Linked DNA regions of Homo sapiens. The protein of the gene in region 2 interacts with the protein of the main gene of each other region in a biochemical or structural test. Each region holds a gene or a part of one and is shown on either strand. Other genes may lie near its edges.

Region 1 (7,036 bases), on a different chromosome or scaffold from region 2:
GAATGGCTTTTCCAAATGAACCTTCTCCAATCTTCTGTAGTCTAACATACTTCTCCATGATTCTTTTTCTAAGGCATCTTTACAGATATGCTAGACATTTAAAAAACTAACAAAAAAGATAAAGCATTTATAACATGAGATAAAACATTATAACTTCATAACAATTTTAATGTTTAATTCAAATTCTAATTCTTTAGTGATTTGCTAACATTTTAAAAAAGGATATTTAATATATTCACTAAAAGTTACACTTTATATACTTTACTAGTACAACCTAATTACATCCAAAAAAGAGAAAAAAATGTGATATTTCAATTTTATAAGAATGCTTTGGAAAGCCAAATACTGCATATACTTAATGTATGGAGAGAAAGGCAAACTTACATGAATTAATTAGTAGCATTACTTTATTTTCTCCAAAAAGAATGAAAACCTAATAATACACTATTTCTTGAAGTTATTTAACTAATCCCCTCTTATTCAACATTCGTTTAAAATGTTTGCTAGTATAGAACAATTTTGGATAGTTTTTGTACACATATTTTAATGTGCTTATTGTAAGGATTTCCTTAGGATAAATTCTGAATTCAAAGAATATGCCCATGTTACAGTATGGCTTTCAAACATATTAAGTGTCTTAACAGAACTGTCTACTAATACGTATTTAGCCAGTAGTGCCTGCTACTAGGTACCCTCATTAACACTGGTTATTATTATTTCTTGTATTTAGGGAGATGTTTACTGTAATGTCATTTATAACAACAAAACACTGGTTGTTATTTATTAAAATCTTTGAGAAGCAATAAAGGGTAGTAGTTAAAGAACACTAAAAAGTTTAAATCTTAGCTTTATCACTTATTTGTTATGTAAACTTAGGCAAGTTACTTATCTCTATGTGCTCAGTTTGGTCACATGTAAAATGTGAATAACCATAGTACATATTTACAGAAGTGTTGGAAGAATTAGTTAATGTAAGAATGTACTGAAAACAGTACTTGGCACATATGAACACTGTGTCACTATTTGTTATTGTTGTTACTCCATACGTCTAATGGGGAAAATGGTGTTTCGTTTTTATTTTGATTTCTTTTGCTTACCAGTGAATTTGAAAAATTCTTCCACATTTATTGAACATTTTTTTTTTTTTTTTTTTAAGACAGTCTCACTCTGAAGCCCAGGATGGAGTGCAGTCACACGATCTCGGCTCACTGCAATCTCCACCTTCCAGGTTCCAGCGATTCCCCTGCCTCAGCCTCCCAAGTAGCTAGGATTACAGGTGTGTGCCACCACACACAGCTAATTTTTGTATTTTTAGTAGAGACGGGGTTTCGCCATGTTGGCTGGTCTTGAACTCCTGACCTCAGGTGATCTGCCCGCCTTGGCCTCCCAAAGTGCTGAGATTAGAGGTGTGAGCCACCATGAGCGGCCACATTTATTGAACATTTCTATTTTTTCTCTTTTGAACTATTCATCCATGTTCTTTAATCATTTTATACTGAGTTGGTCTTTAATTTGTAAAAACTCCTTATGTAATGAAGTCCTTATCTGTCATAAATTATTTTCCCTTATATCCTAGTTGCCTTTAAGTATAAAAGATTATTTTGATATAAACAAATGTATTAATCTTTTCTTTATATTTCTACTTTTAGTATCACACTTAAACCCTTACCATACCAAAACAATTGATTAAGGTCATTAGTATCTTTAGGAATAGTAATTTCAAAAGAGTGGTAGTTTCAGGAGAAGCCAGAATACAATAAGCTAGCTAGTGAAAGCTGAAAAAAGTGTGAGAAAGAGTCATAAGAGCAATAATGTGTACAACCTATTGGCAATATCACCCTTATTGTAGACATACATGAATTTACTATGCTAATCTGAAACTAATAAACATTTAATTCACCTAGCTTGCTCTTTTTTATTTCCATTCATAGCAGGCTTCCAATGTGTGATTCCTTTCTAGGAGAAAATAAGTTTGTCGTGAAACTCTTTTTAAATTTCTGTGGCAGTTTACCATATTTCTCATTGTAAATTAAAAAATCCATGTTCTTATCTCATCCATCAGTGCCAAATTTGTTTTTAACTTTATTTTGCCTCTAAAAATGATCCAATCTCCTTAAATGACAAACATCATATGCTGTGCCTACAAGACCAGACCACAGGCCAGAACTCAGCCTGTGGTAGCACTGATGAGATAAGTATGACTCATGAAATTTTGTGAGAAAGAGCCTTTCTCTACCTTAGAAAACAAGATTGCCTTTAGCAACTTTAAGAGAAACAAGAAATAAACCATTATTATAGCATTTTAGCATCAGTGAGTTAAAGAAGAAAAGTTGTTCCAAATATATTTTCAAGCCCAAGTTGTGTTAACTGGCACAATATAATGGCTATCTGGGCACCAGCCACAATTTAATGATTTTTCCAGAACATGAATGTTTAATATATTACATTACTATGCTACTTACAAAAAAAAATCAAGATAAACTCATCTTAGTAATCTAAATTTCAAAAATTAAATTAAATAATAGCCATATAATGAGATTACTTCACAATCATCATTATTCTGCGACTTTCTGCCAAGAGAGGGAAACAAAATTAGTCAATTTGGCCATTCCTTAAAATTAAGTTGCCAATTCCTTTCTAGGGACCACACTAATAAGACAGAAGCTCCAAAAGTCCCCAGTGTTGCATTCTACTGCCAACAACATTACTGAACATTGTGGTTCTAACTCTATAAAGCAGACCTACTGATCCTGTTAGTAAAGAAAGATGACTCTAATTGCCATCAAATATGTCAAATGCAGACACTTTTCTGAACAACAAAAGACTTGTGGTAGATGACTTTCAGGAAAACAGACAAACTCTCCTTTTTTGTAATGTCAGTGTACAATAAAGGAAGTAAAAGGGAAAACATGAAAAAATAGATTACTTTCAGCATCTTACAATATATTTAACTGAGCTACTTCCTAGTTGTGAGACTTCTCAACTGAATTATAATTCCATAAAATTTTTCATACCAAATGAAATAGAAAACAATAACAAATTGTACTATAGGCTTCCACATACAAAATCATAACTTATAACTGAAGGAACATACGAATCCTGTTTACTTCAGTATTGTAATAAACTCAAATTAATGTTTGCCTTTTCTACCATTCAGTTTCCAACATCAAATGAAAATCACAATACCAACTTTACTCACTCTATAGTGTTCTTAAGGTCTCTAATAATTATATCAATTCAATCTCTATAATACATAGCTGATCCTGAAGATAAGCAACAAGGAAAAAATCAGAGACTTTTTTGATATTTGAGCTTTCCAAAGAGTTATGTCACCTAATAAAGCAATGAATTCAGAATCAAGAGACAAGACTAGCTACATAATCAAACGCTAACCATCTGCCTTTTGTGGACTTCAGTTTCTTTATCTAGAAACACGAAAGATTTAAACCTAATGCCATTTTATAGACCTTGCCAAGTCGACTAGTCTATGACTCAAGGAGAAGAAAATTAAAAAGTCAGAAAATATATAATGTCAACACTGTTTAGAATTGTACTCTTAGCCACAAAGAGTAAGAGTGATGGGGAAAGCCATTCCATCAAAAAATTAAAAGAAGTCATACTAATTTCTTTAGCCTAATTATTTAAAAAGTAAAAATAAATAAACTGTAATCTACAGTTAAGCATACTAGATTGACCCGTACATATTTACCTCTACTACTTGTCCAAACCTGAGGAACATGACTTTAAAGGGATTACCAAAAAGGCAAAACAGAAGAGAAGGCAACAGCAATACAGTTCTAGAAGCTGGCAAACACAAAAGAACATGCAGCAACTGACTTAGGAGAATAGAGAAAAGCTGTACCTTAAGCCAGCAGTGGGAAATAAGTCAGAAACAAGTCAATTCCCACCACAAACTAGCTCAATAATTGGAAGTACTGGGGCATCTAAGAGTGAGGATAATATTAGGACTCAAACAGGATTGGTGAAGAGCTTGTGTAAGAAGTGTCAGACACTTAGTTTGCCTCCTCCACCTCTCCCAGTCAGATAAGTACTCCTCTCCCATCTTGAAAGAAGACCACAGATATCTCTAGATTGGGTACACCAGGCACAACTAAGAATGGAAATCCCATCTATGATCTAGGAGATTAAGTGAAAGTCTACATAATAAATCGTGAGACTCTCTTTCAACCATGATGGTGTTCTTAGTATCAGATCACCTCACCTTCCAAAACAACTTAAAACCTGAACAAAATATATAAAGAAACAGCAATGCATTGAGGGGCTATAATCACCGAAAGGTGGAAACATACTAGTGGGTTCTACATTCATCCCAGCCTTTTCCCTGAAGAGAGTTTCCAAACTGTGCTACAGTACAATGGAGCTCAAGTATAAAGCAGCAGTCTTGCTGAGGAGAGAAAGCGGTCAGAGTTCAGGGCTACCAAAATCCTGAAGAGGAAAAATAATAGAAGGAGTCCAAAAATCTACAGTAAGTTCTGCTCCTGTTATTCTGTTCCTAAACTGTGCATACATGGAGGAGGACTGAAACAGTCTCATCCTAACAAAGCCTAAAAGCAACCATGGATAAAATCAAAGTTATTCACTGATACTTCATCAGACTGCCAAAACAAAACTAACAATTTTTACAAGATACATGTTTCAGAGTCTCTAAGACTTTTCATTCACAATGTCTAGTATCCCATCAAAAAATAATGATGCACATTAAACAAAAACAGATATAGACTCACAAATGACTCAAACATGAAGTTACTAATAGAGGACTTGAAAGTAACCATGATTAATTAATATGTCTAAGAAAACAAGATAAAAAGATGGATAAAACAGATTTTTTAAAAGATGGAGAATTTCAACAAAGAATTAAAATTTTTTTTTAATTTTTAATTTTTTTTTGAGACAGAGTCTCGCACTGTTGCCCAGGCTGGAGTGCAGTGGCGCAGTCTTGGCTCACTGCAAGCTCCACCTCCCAGGTTCACGCCATTCTTCTGCCTCAGCCTCCCAAGTAGCTGGGACTACAGGCGCCTGCCACCACGCCCGGCTAATTTTTTTGTATATTTAGTAGAGATGGGGTTTCACCGTGTTAGCCAGGATGGTCTCGATCTCCTGACCTTGTGATCCGCCCGCCTCAGCCTCCCAAAGTGCTGGGATGACAGGTGTGAGCCACCGCGCCTGGCCTCAAAATTTATTTCTAAAAAGTGGACATTCTAAAACTACAATATAAAATATCTGAAATTAAGAACTCATTCATGGATTTACGGCAGACAGGACACAGCAGAAGGCAGGATTACTAGCCTATAAAATGAACCAATAGAAAATATTCAACAAAAAAACTGAGAGAAAAATATTAAAAAACAACAACACACACCGGGATGGGGGTGGGGGTGGAGAAAGAAATGTATAGGAAGACTTAATATCATAAAGATTTTCATTCCTAATCTCTACAGTTAATGCTGTCCTAATAAAAACATAAGCTTTGGGGCTGGGGGTGATTAGACAGGCTGATTTTAAAGTTCAGACACACACACACATACACACACACACACACACACACAAAGAAGAAGAAGAACAGCCAGAGAAATATTGAAAAAGAAGAGCAATGAAGGAAAATTTGTTTGGCTTAATATCAAAACACATTACAAAGCTACAATAATTATGAAATAGGCAAATCACAGGAAGTCCAGAAATCAAAAAACTTTTAAAACTTGGTTAATAATCATAGTGACATTTCAAATCAGTAGGAAAAAAGATGAATTTTGAAATAAAAAGTTCAAAGCCAGCAGTGAGACAACTGGGTAGCCATGTGGGGAAAAAAAGTTAATTTATTCCCTCATTTTACACCAACCTAAATTCTAGATGCTAAAATACTGAAATGTAAGAAATAAAAGCATAATAGTAATAAAATAAAACATGGGAGAATGACTTCTGTCTTAGAGTGGTTAGCTGAAGCACAACACAAAATCAAAAAACCTTGAGGGATTAATATGACTAGACCAATATTTTAGCTATTACAACGATCTCATTTTTCTAACAAATAAAAAACTCGTACATATTTATAAGACCAAAAAACACAACAATCCAAAAGAAAAGTGGACAAAGGATATGAAGTTAAACGTTAACACTGAGAATGAATACAAATTATGTTAAAATGTGCCACGATACCCAATCTCCTGTAAAACGATATACAATTTTGGCCGGGCATGGTGGCTCACACTTGTAATCCCAGCACTTTGGGAGGCCGAGGCAGGCGGATCACTTGAGGTCAGGAGTTTGATGTCAGGCTGACCAACATGGTAAGACCACTGTCTCTACTAAGAATACAAAAAATTAGCTGGGTGTGGTGGTGCAGGCCTGTAATCCCAGCTACTCGGGAGGCTGAGACAGGAGAATCGCTTGAACCTGGGAGGCAGAGGTTGCAGTGAGCTGAGATCACACCACTCCACTCCAGCCTGGGTGACAGAGCGAGACTCCTTCTCAAAAAAAAAAAAAAAAAAGAAGAAGAAATACAATTTTAAAATACAAGGGGTAAGTTTTATGTTATGTATATTTAACCACAATTTTTTTAAAAAAGCACAAGAGACGGCATGTTTCATCAATTAGAATGGCAAAATTCACAGTTGATTATTGTACTGTACTGTGGGGGAATAGCAGGAAACAATATGGTGGGACTATAAATTGGTACAAGCACTAAGGAAAATAATTTGGCAACATCTACCAAAATTATAAGGGGACAGAAACTTTGATGTAGTGATTCAATTTCTAGCAATTTACCCTACAAATATTTCCAAATGTAGGAAAACAAAGTATCTACAAAGTTATCCTCTGCAGCACTGTTTCTAATAGAGCAAAATGTAATCATTCACATACAGTCAACACAGCAACTTTTAAACTGATATAATTTCTTAATACACTGTTAGATTTTTAGGGATCAGAATAATAAATATGGCATGCTATCATTTGTTTAGTAAAAGGAAATACATAAGTATATATGCTTACAGTTACTCATATATGTGTATAAATATAC
Region 2 (7,036 bases):
AATTAGCCAGGCGTGGTGGCGCATGCCTGTAATCCCAGATACTTGGGAGGCTGAGGCAGGAGAATTGCTTGAACCTGGGAGGCAGAGGTTGCAGTGCGCCGAGATCACGCCACTGCACTCCAGCCTGGGTGACAGAGCGAGACTCTGTCTCAAAAAATAAAAAAAAAAACAGCCTTACCTGGAAAAACTCAGCAGATGAAAGTGAACACGTGATCATTCACCTATCATCTCTCTGTTGTGACATGACTATTCTGGTGATGAATAGAATTGAAATCAGAACTCTGTTTCTCAGGGAGGATTAGCACACACTGAGTTTCTGAAAAACAAATGGGCAATAAGGACTATGTAAGAAGTCATCACGTCATTCTATTACATGGTATATAATTAAGCATTTTTTTTTTAATCTGGCAAAGTGACTGTATTTACCATTGCCACCTGGTGCTCTGTTCGTGCCGTGACTAAGCTATGTAAAATTTACCCTTTGAAAGCATTCTTTAGATTATTTTACTTATAAAACCAAGTGTATAGAAATTTTTTTTGACAAAAGAAGAATGGTTTTTGCATTAAAAAGAGAAAAACATTCAGGAAAACTAGTTTGCTAGATTGCAGTTTTAAATTTTTCTTTGATTGAAGATTAAGATGGCACACTTCTAAATTTGATATGTCTTTTTTAGAGTAAGGCAACTGGTATCTTTCAAATTCTTACGTGGGCACATTTTTTCCATTTGATGTATCTTCAGTTTTATACAGGGAAACAGTACCACCAGGTCTGTATCTAACCCTGGCATTGGAAGGAGTGATGGGAATGCTTGGCAAAGAGAAGGCACATTTAATGCTGAAGGGAGGAGTGAATAATGATACCCATGACAGCCAGGGCTAGTTTGCAAAGCCTGAAAGATATTCCAGCTCTTAGCATATGCCATCTCTGTGGGGAATGGACTTGGCTCTCTCTCTGGAAAGATGATCTGGGATCATTTCTGTTGTCATGGAAATTTATTATAATAGTTTACTGTTATTACTCATGTGTTTTGGCCATAACCCTATTCTAAATCTGGTGCCATTCTTGAATATACTTATATGATAGAATGCTTATCATTCATTTCAGCTTAAGAACATCTTCTGTGCTGTATTTCTCCTTCCATGTGCATTTCTTTCAGGACAGGGACTTTTGTATGCATCTTTATACCTTTAAGAGTAGAAATAAGAAAAAGATAATGTCTTCCACAGAAGCAATTTGATTGATTGATAGATTGAGAGAGTGTCTCCCTCTGTTGCCCAGGCTGGAGTACAGTGGCGCCATCATAGCTTACTGCAGCCTCCAACTCCTGGGCTTAAGCGATCTTCCCGCTCCAGCTTCCTGAGTAGCTAGACTACACACGAGTACCGCCATGCCTGGCTAATTTTAAGAAAATATATTTCTGTAGAGACGAGGTCTTCCTGTGTTGCTCAGGGTGGTCTTGATGTCCTGACCTCAGGAGATCCTCCCACCTTGGCCTCCCAAAGTGTTGGGATTACAGGTGTGAGCCATGGCAACCTGGGCTTCCTTAGGAGTAATTTTTTTTTTTTTTTTTGAGACATGGTCTGGCTCTGTTGTCCAGGCTGGAGCGCAGTGGCACCATCTTGGCTCACTGCAACCTCCACCTCCTGGGCTCAAGTGATCCTCCCACCTCAGCCTCCTGAATAGCTGGGACTACAGGCATGTGCCATCATGCCTGGCTAATTTTTTGTAGCAATGGGGTTTCACCATGTTTCCCAGGCTGTTCTCAAACTCCTGAGCTCAAGCAATCCACCCGCCTCAGCCTCCCAAAGTGCTGGGATTACAGGCATGAGCCACTGTGCCCACCCCGGATTAATTTTAAAATTAAAACTTTTAGTATTTATAAGCCAGAAGGGGAAAAATAAAACAAAATCATGGTCCTCAAGTTGCAACATAGGAAGAGTGATTGGGAAGGGGGTGTGAAGTGTTCGAAGTGTAAGGATCGATGAAACTAATCGGTAGGTCTACTCCATGGTATCGACATGCCTTTGTGATCACAGTGTGCCACATTTTCATCTTCTACAGTATAGAAATCATACATCCCCTCTCATCAAGAGCCTAGTCTCTTGATCTTTCTCCTTCTTTAAAAAATTAAATTATTAAAGGAACAGCTGTCATAGTTTAAAAAGTAAATTAGAACTATAGGACTTAAATGAAAAGGCAGTCTCTGCTCCACTTGATTTCTCCTTACCAGAGGTGGCCACTTTAAATGATATCAGCTATTTCTTTTAGCAGATAACATGCTCATGCCATTTTACTTGATATTATTTTCTCAATTTTAGACTTTATTTATTTTCTACCCAGAGGGTGAAGGTTTAGCTCTCTTCTGTCCTTTGCCAATCCCTGACACTATACCCTCCCAAAAACTTCCCTTTCCCCATCTTCCCAATGTAATTACATAACATCTGGGGTTGAATTAATCTTCATCATTTATATTTACTATTTAAATGTGCACAGTTGACCCATTATGATATATTATGTTTACATTTTCTCTTTTTCTACTTAGGTTTTTTCTTAGGATACTACCTGCCTTTTTGTGGTTTATTTAGTTTATAATTAGCTGACCAGTTCAGCCTCAATAGAGCCGTAGAACTCATTTTAGTAAATGGACCGCACTAGGTAATCTATCTAGTCCTTCTGCTCTCCCTCCCCACCCACCTCTCCCTCTTCTCCATGCTCTCTGCAATAAAAATTCTAATCTGAATGTTACTCTCTAGTGTAGCTTTACAGTCATCATTCTGGGATTTTCACTTTACTATCATTACGAGAATTCTCTTTGTCACTTGTTATTAGACCACATATCTTTTTTCTTTTTCATTTTCCTCCTGGTAGCTTTTTGAGAAAGGGCACATGAGAGGTAAATTTTTTCAGAACTTGTATGTCTGAAAATGTCTTTATCCTAGCCCCTGCCTACTTGTTTTAGCTGGATATAGGATTCTAGGATGGAATTTCTCCAAACATGGAAGTTACATCGATTATTTTCTAGCATCTATTGTTGCTATTGAGAATTCACTTGACATTTTGATTCCTGATCCTTTTAATGTGATTTTTTTTTCCCTCCCTGGAAGCTTTTAGATTCTCCTTTTTTCCACACAGTGTTCTTAGTTCATGATGCTGTGTTGAAGGTCATGGCCAGGCCTTTGCTAGGCTGATGGTGCAGTAAGAAATAAAATGAGAAGGGCTGTCGTCACTGCGCAGGAGCCTGGAGTTGCATTATAGGGTTGTAGGTGGACCGTGCAGTGTTGATGGGGCCCTTCTCCCAGCCTAATGTTGGAAAGTCAGTGTGCCAGTGCTTCTTCCCTTGGCCCTTCTCACGTGCAGGTTTCTTACTCTGTAGGCTGTGTTCACCTGCAAACTTCAGATGCTCATGTTATGAAGAACTAGGGAAGCAGTAGGAACCTACATCCATTCCATTGTGTCCTCAGCTTTAGACATATATCCTCTGCATGGATAAATAATTTTGCCAGGTAAAATTTTATCATGTTAGTTCTACACTATGTAATAGAATGACATGGTGGCTTCTTACGTAATCCTTGTTGCCCATTTATTCTTTGGAAACTCAGTGTGTGCTAATCCTTCCTGAGGAATAGAGTTCTAGTTTCAGTTCCATTCAACACCTGAATAGTCATGTCATGACAGATAGGTAGATGATAGACAGATGTTCCCTTGTTCATTTTAATCTGCTGAGTTTTTTCAGGCAAAGTTTTTACAATCAGTACTGGTACTAAACTCTAAGGCTGTTTATATTGGTGTGGGCAGGGTTAAGGGAAACAAACTTGATGTGGTGCAATCCCCCAGGGCTGGCAACAGAAACTGGTACTTTAGCAGTCCTGGGCATGAAGAGGTAAGGAGAGGGAGAAATTACCATAAACTGTTGAGATTGGCCTTGTGGGAGAAGTCTGCTAATCAGAGCTATGGCTTTGGTGAAGAGCCATAGTCAACAAATGACAGTCTGACAGGGAGGAAGACAGCAAAATACATGCCCAGCCTTCACCATCCCACCTTCCAGTCTGCCAGTGTCTGCCAATGGGGTTTAACCCACCTGGAAGCCAGACAGCAAGGGCATCCTTTGATGTCTTCCATAAAGGTCGTCCTCCTGGAGCGCAGAGCAGGGTGGAAGATGGTGAGGAGGTGAGTGGTGAATCACCAGCTTAGTTAGGTTTAAAGATGTTTTTGGAACCTAGGGTTATTATTTTTTGTTAAGAAGGAATGTGCAATTGGAAGGGCTAAGTGTGACGCTCATGGACAGATCCCGCCTTTCAGGGAGTTGATCATCTTTTACTCAGATATTAGAAGTTAGTTTGCAAGTAACTAACTTTTATGTTTTCTTTAGAATGTTAACGTCTACCAATCTTAGTGTGTGTTGCTAACCCTGCCCATATTCTCCCTTCTATTCACTGTAATTCCCTATGACTTGCTAATGAATACCGTATTTTTTTCTGCATATCTGTCAGCTTTTATAGCAGTCTTATGCAGCATCTCAGTGATTTCATATTTATTCTACATTCTTCTCATTTCTGTTCAAGATGAATATATACTCATTGCCTGGTACAGAGTGATTGTAATAATTTCTCCCTCTTGAGGGAAGGCTCTTAGTAGTTGCTTTTCTCTGCAGCCTCTTTTACTCAGAGCTGTTAACTTTGTTTTGATGAGGATGTCCTGCTTTTAATGATGGGTATTTTTGTTTTTAGGTAAGTGACAGTTTGCTCTTTGATACATCAGATGATGAAGAGCTGAGAGAACAGCTGGATATGCACTCAATCATCGTCTCCTGTGTTAATGATGAACCCCTCTTCACGGCAGACCAGGTATAGAGGAGATCCTCAGCAACGCAAGGAAAGGAGACTCTAGAGCTGAAAAACGGCTTCTTGTTATGACAGTAAATGATGGCTGTTGGTTTACTTATCTTTCCTATTTTTTTCTGGTTATACAGGCTTAATAGTTAACTCTTCCACAGAGAAAAATAAGTATTTGTGATCTGAAGCAGAAGGGATTATGTTAGTTGGGAAGGTTTCCAACAGAGGCCTTGTTGAAGATTATAGCAAGGTACCAAGGAAAGGTTGTTGCTTAACCCCAAACCAGAAAAATATTGTGAATTTCCTTGTTTCTTTAGATTTACCCAAACACGGACAAACTGTAAAGTATCTGTGTAGAAATTATTTAGTATCTTCAAAACCCTGGGTAAAAAGCATTAGCATGTATTAAAGTAACATATTGTGTGCCCCAGAAAGAAGTGAGCATTATTCCCGTGGAATGCGCTAATAAGGTCAACCCTGTATTCACTTAAAACCAGTCGAATCAGCTTTCTCATTTTCTGAATACTCTTCCCACCTCTGTTGTATTGTTGAAATGTGATGCCAGAACTTCTTCCTGAAATAAAATGTTCCATGGCTACTCGGACTGTGAGTTCTACCACACTCTATTTTTAGGCTGGAAAGATGAGATCAGTAAGGAGATACATTATGGCAAGCTTGGGAGGAGTACATTAAAAATTTACATTAAAATTGTGTTATTTGGATCCTCCTTAGTCATATTTGTGGTTGAATTGTTCTAGGCGTGGGAAGAATGTGGTGCTTAAAAAAGCAAGGTAATAGTAGGTTGGAAGGTTGTTTTGAGGTAGAGGGTAATCTAGGGATAGACATGACCTTGAGAATTCATTGTCCCCTCACTGACCTGCCTAATACCGTAAACTCTCCCTTTTTTTAAGAGTTAGAATAACAGATTCTGTAGGATCCTTGAGTGGCTCATTGTACCTTATTATATTTCCTGTTTTGGAGACTCTTCTTATAATTAACATAATCCCATCTCCTTCAGATTTGCCTTTGTTTTTCCTTGGTGGAAATCTTACCTGTTAAGCTTGTTAATTCATAAAGCATGGAAATATGCTCATGATGTCTTACTCCTTCATTTAATTGTGTTTAATTTTTTTTTTTAACTTTAGGTCCTTTTTTCTAACTATTGAGTAATTTTCCTGGGTTTCCTTTACATTTTCGCTGAGTTCTATATCCTTCTCAACTTTTAGAATCTGGAAAAGGGCAAGATACTGTTGTAAGATTTGAGCAGCACTGCACTAGACAGTAGATCATTGTTTAAAGTCAAATGTATTTCTGAAGTTTTTCTGCTTTTCACAGCATTTTTCTCTTTGGACTTCTACTTTTTGAGTAATTTAAAAAATCCCTTTTTTTCGTTGAATTAATATATAAAATTATTTTTCTGCTGTTGAAAGAATATTTTGCTGTCATAGAGGTAATTTCCCATTTATATATACTTTTTTTGTGCTATTGTATTTTATAAATTTTATGTCAGAATTTTTGATGAGATACCTTTAAATTGAGCACTTGTATGTCTATGGTAAATTTTCTGTTATTTGCTTTCTTCTAACGATTACTGTATGATCTAGCTCTGGTGTGTCTGAAGTAAATTATTATGTGTTTGTAGCACGATTACCTAGACTTTGCAAGACATGTTAGGGCCTTCTGAATCATGATGGACGTAGTAAATCCAATTCTATTTAGGTTTGTGTTTAGTATATTGTAATTTTTTCTTGATAAACCATGTTCACTCCTACAGTAAAAATTTTGATTATTTGGAGCATCCACACCTGAACACCATTGGTTAATGGAGAATTCAGTGCATTTCTGCTCTGGGTGCCTTAGGTGAGCACTGTGTTCCAGATAGATCATTTTCCTTTTGTATATTTGATTAACAGTGGTGTGTGTGTTTTCGAAGGTTATTGAAGAAATTGAAGAAATGATGCAGGAATCACCGGACCCAGAAGATGATGAAACCCCTACACAGTCAGATCGGCTTTCAATGCTTTCCCAGGAAATTCAAACTCTCAAGAGGTCTAGTACCGGCAGTTATGAAGAGAGTAAGGGAGCCTGCTGAAATCAATGATTTCTGTGCTTTTTGTCTGTATCAAATGTATAGTATGATCATCTCCAGAAAGCTTTGATTTCATCCTCCTTCTGTTTGTGTTTGTGTCCAAATTTACATTTT

What was found. The genes of interacting proteins can lie anywhere in the genome.
Region 1: the proteins of FEZ2 (region 2) and NEK1 form a complex in vitro, tested with the Homo sapiens proteins (one study listed by BioGRID).

The regions. Positions count from the first base shown.
Region 1 is NC_000004.12:169,602,573-169,609,608, forward strand, and holds part of NEK1 (serine/threonine-protein kinase Nek1), read right to left. Parts: intron 107-7,036; 5' UTR 59-106; coding exon 1-58. UniProt on the Homo sapiens protein: Phosphorylates serines and threonines, but also appears to possess tyrosine kinase activity. Involved in DNA damage checkpoint control and for proper DNA damage repair.
Region 2 is NC_000002.12:36,581,162-36,588,197, reverse strand, and holds part of FEZ2 (fasciculation and elongation protein zeta-2), read left to right. Parts: intron 1-4,728; coding exon 4,729-4,845; intron 4,846-6,766; coding exon 6,767-6,908; intron 6,909-7,036. UniProt on the Homo sapiens protein: Involved in axonal outgrowth and fasciculation.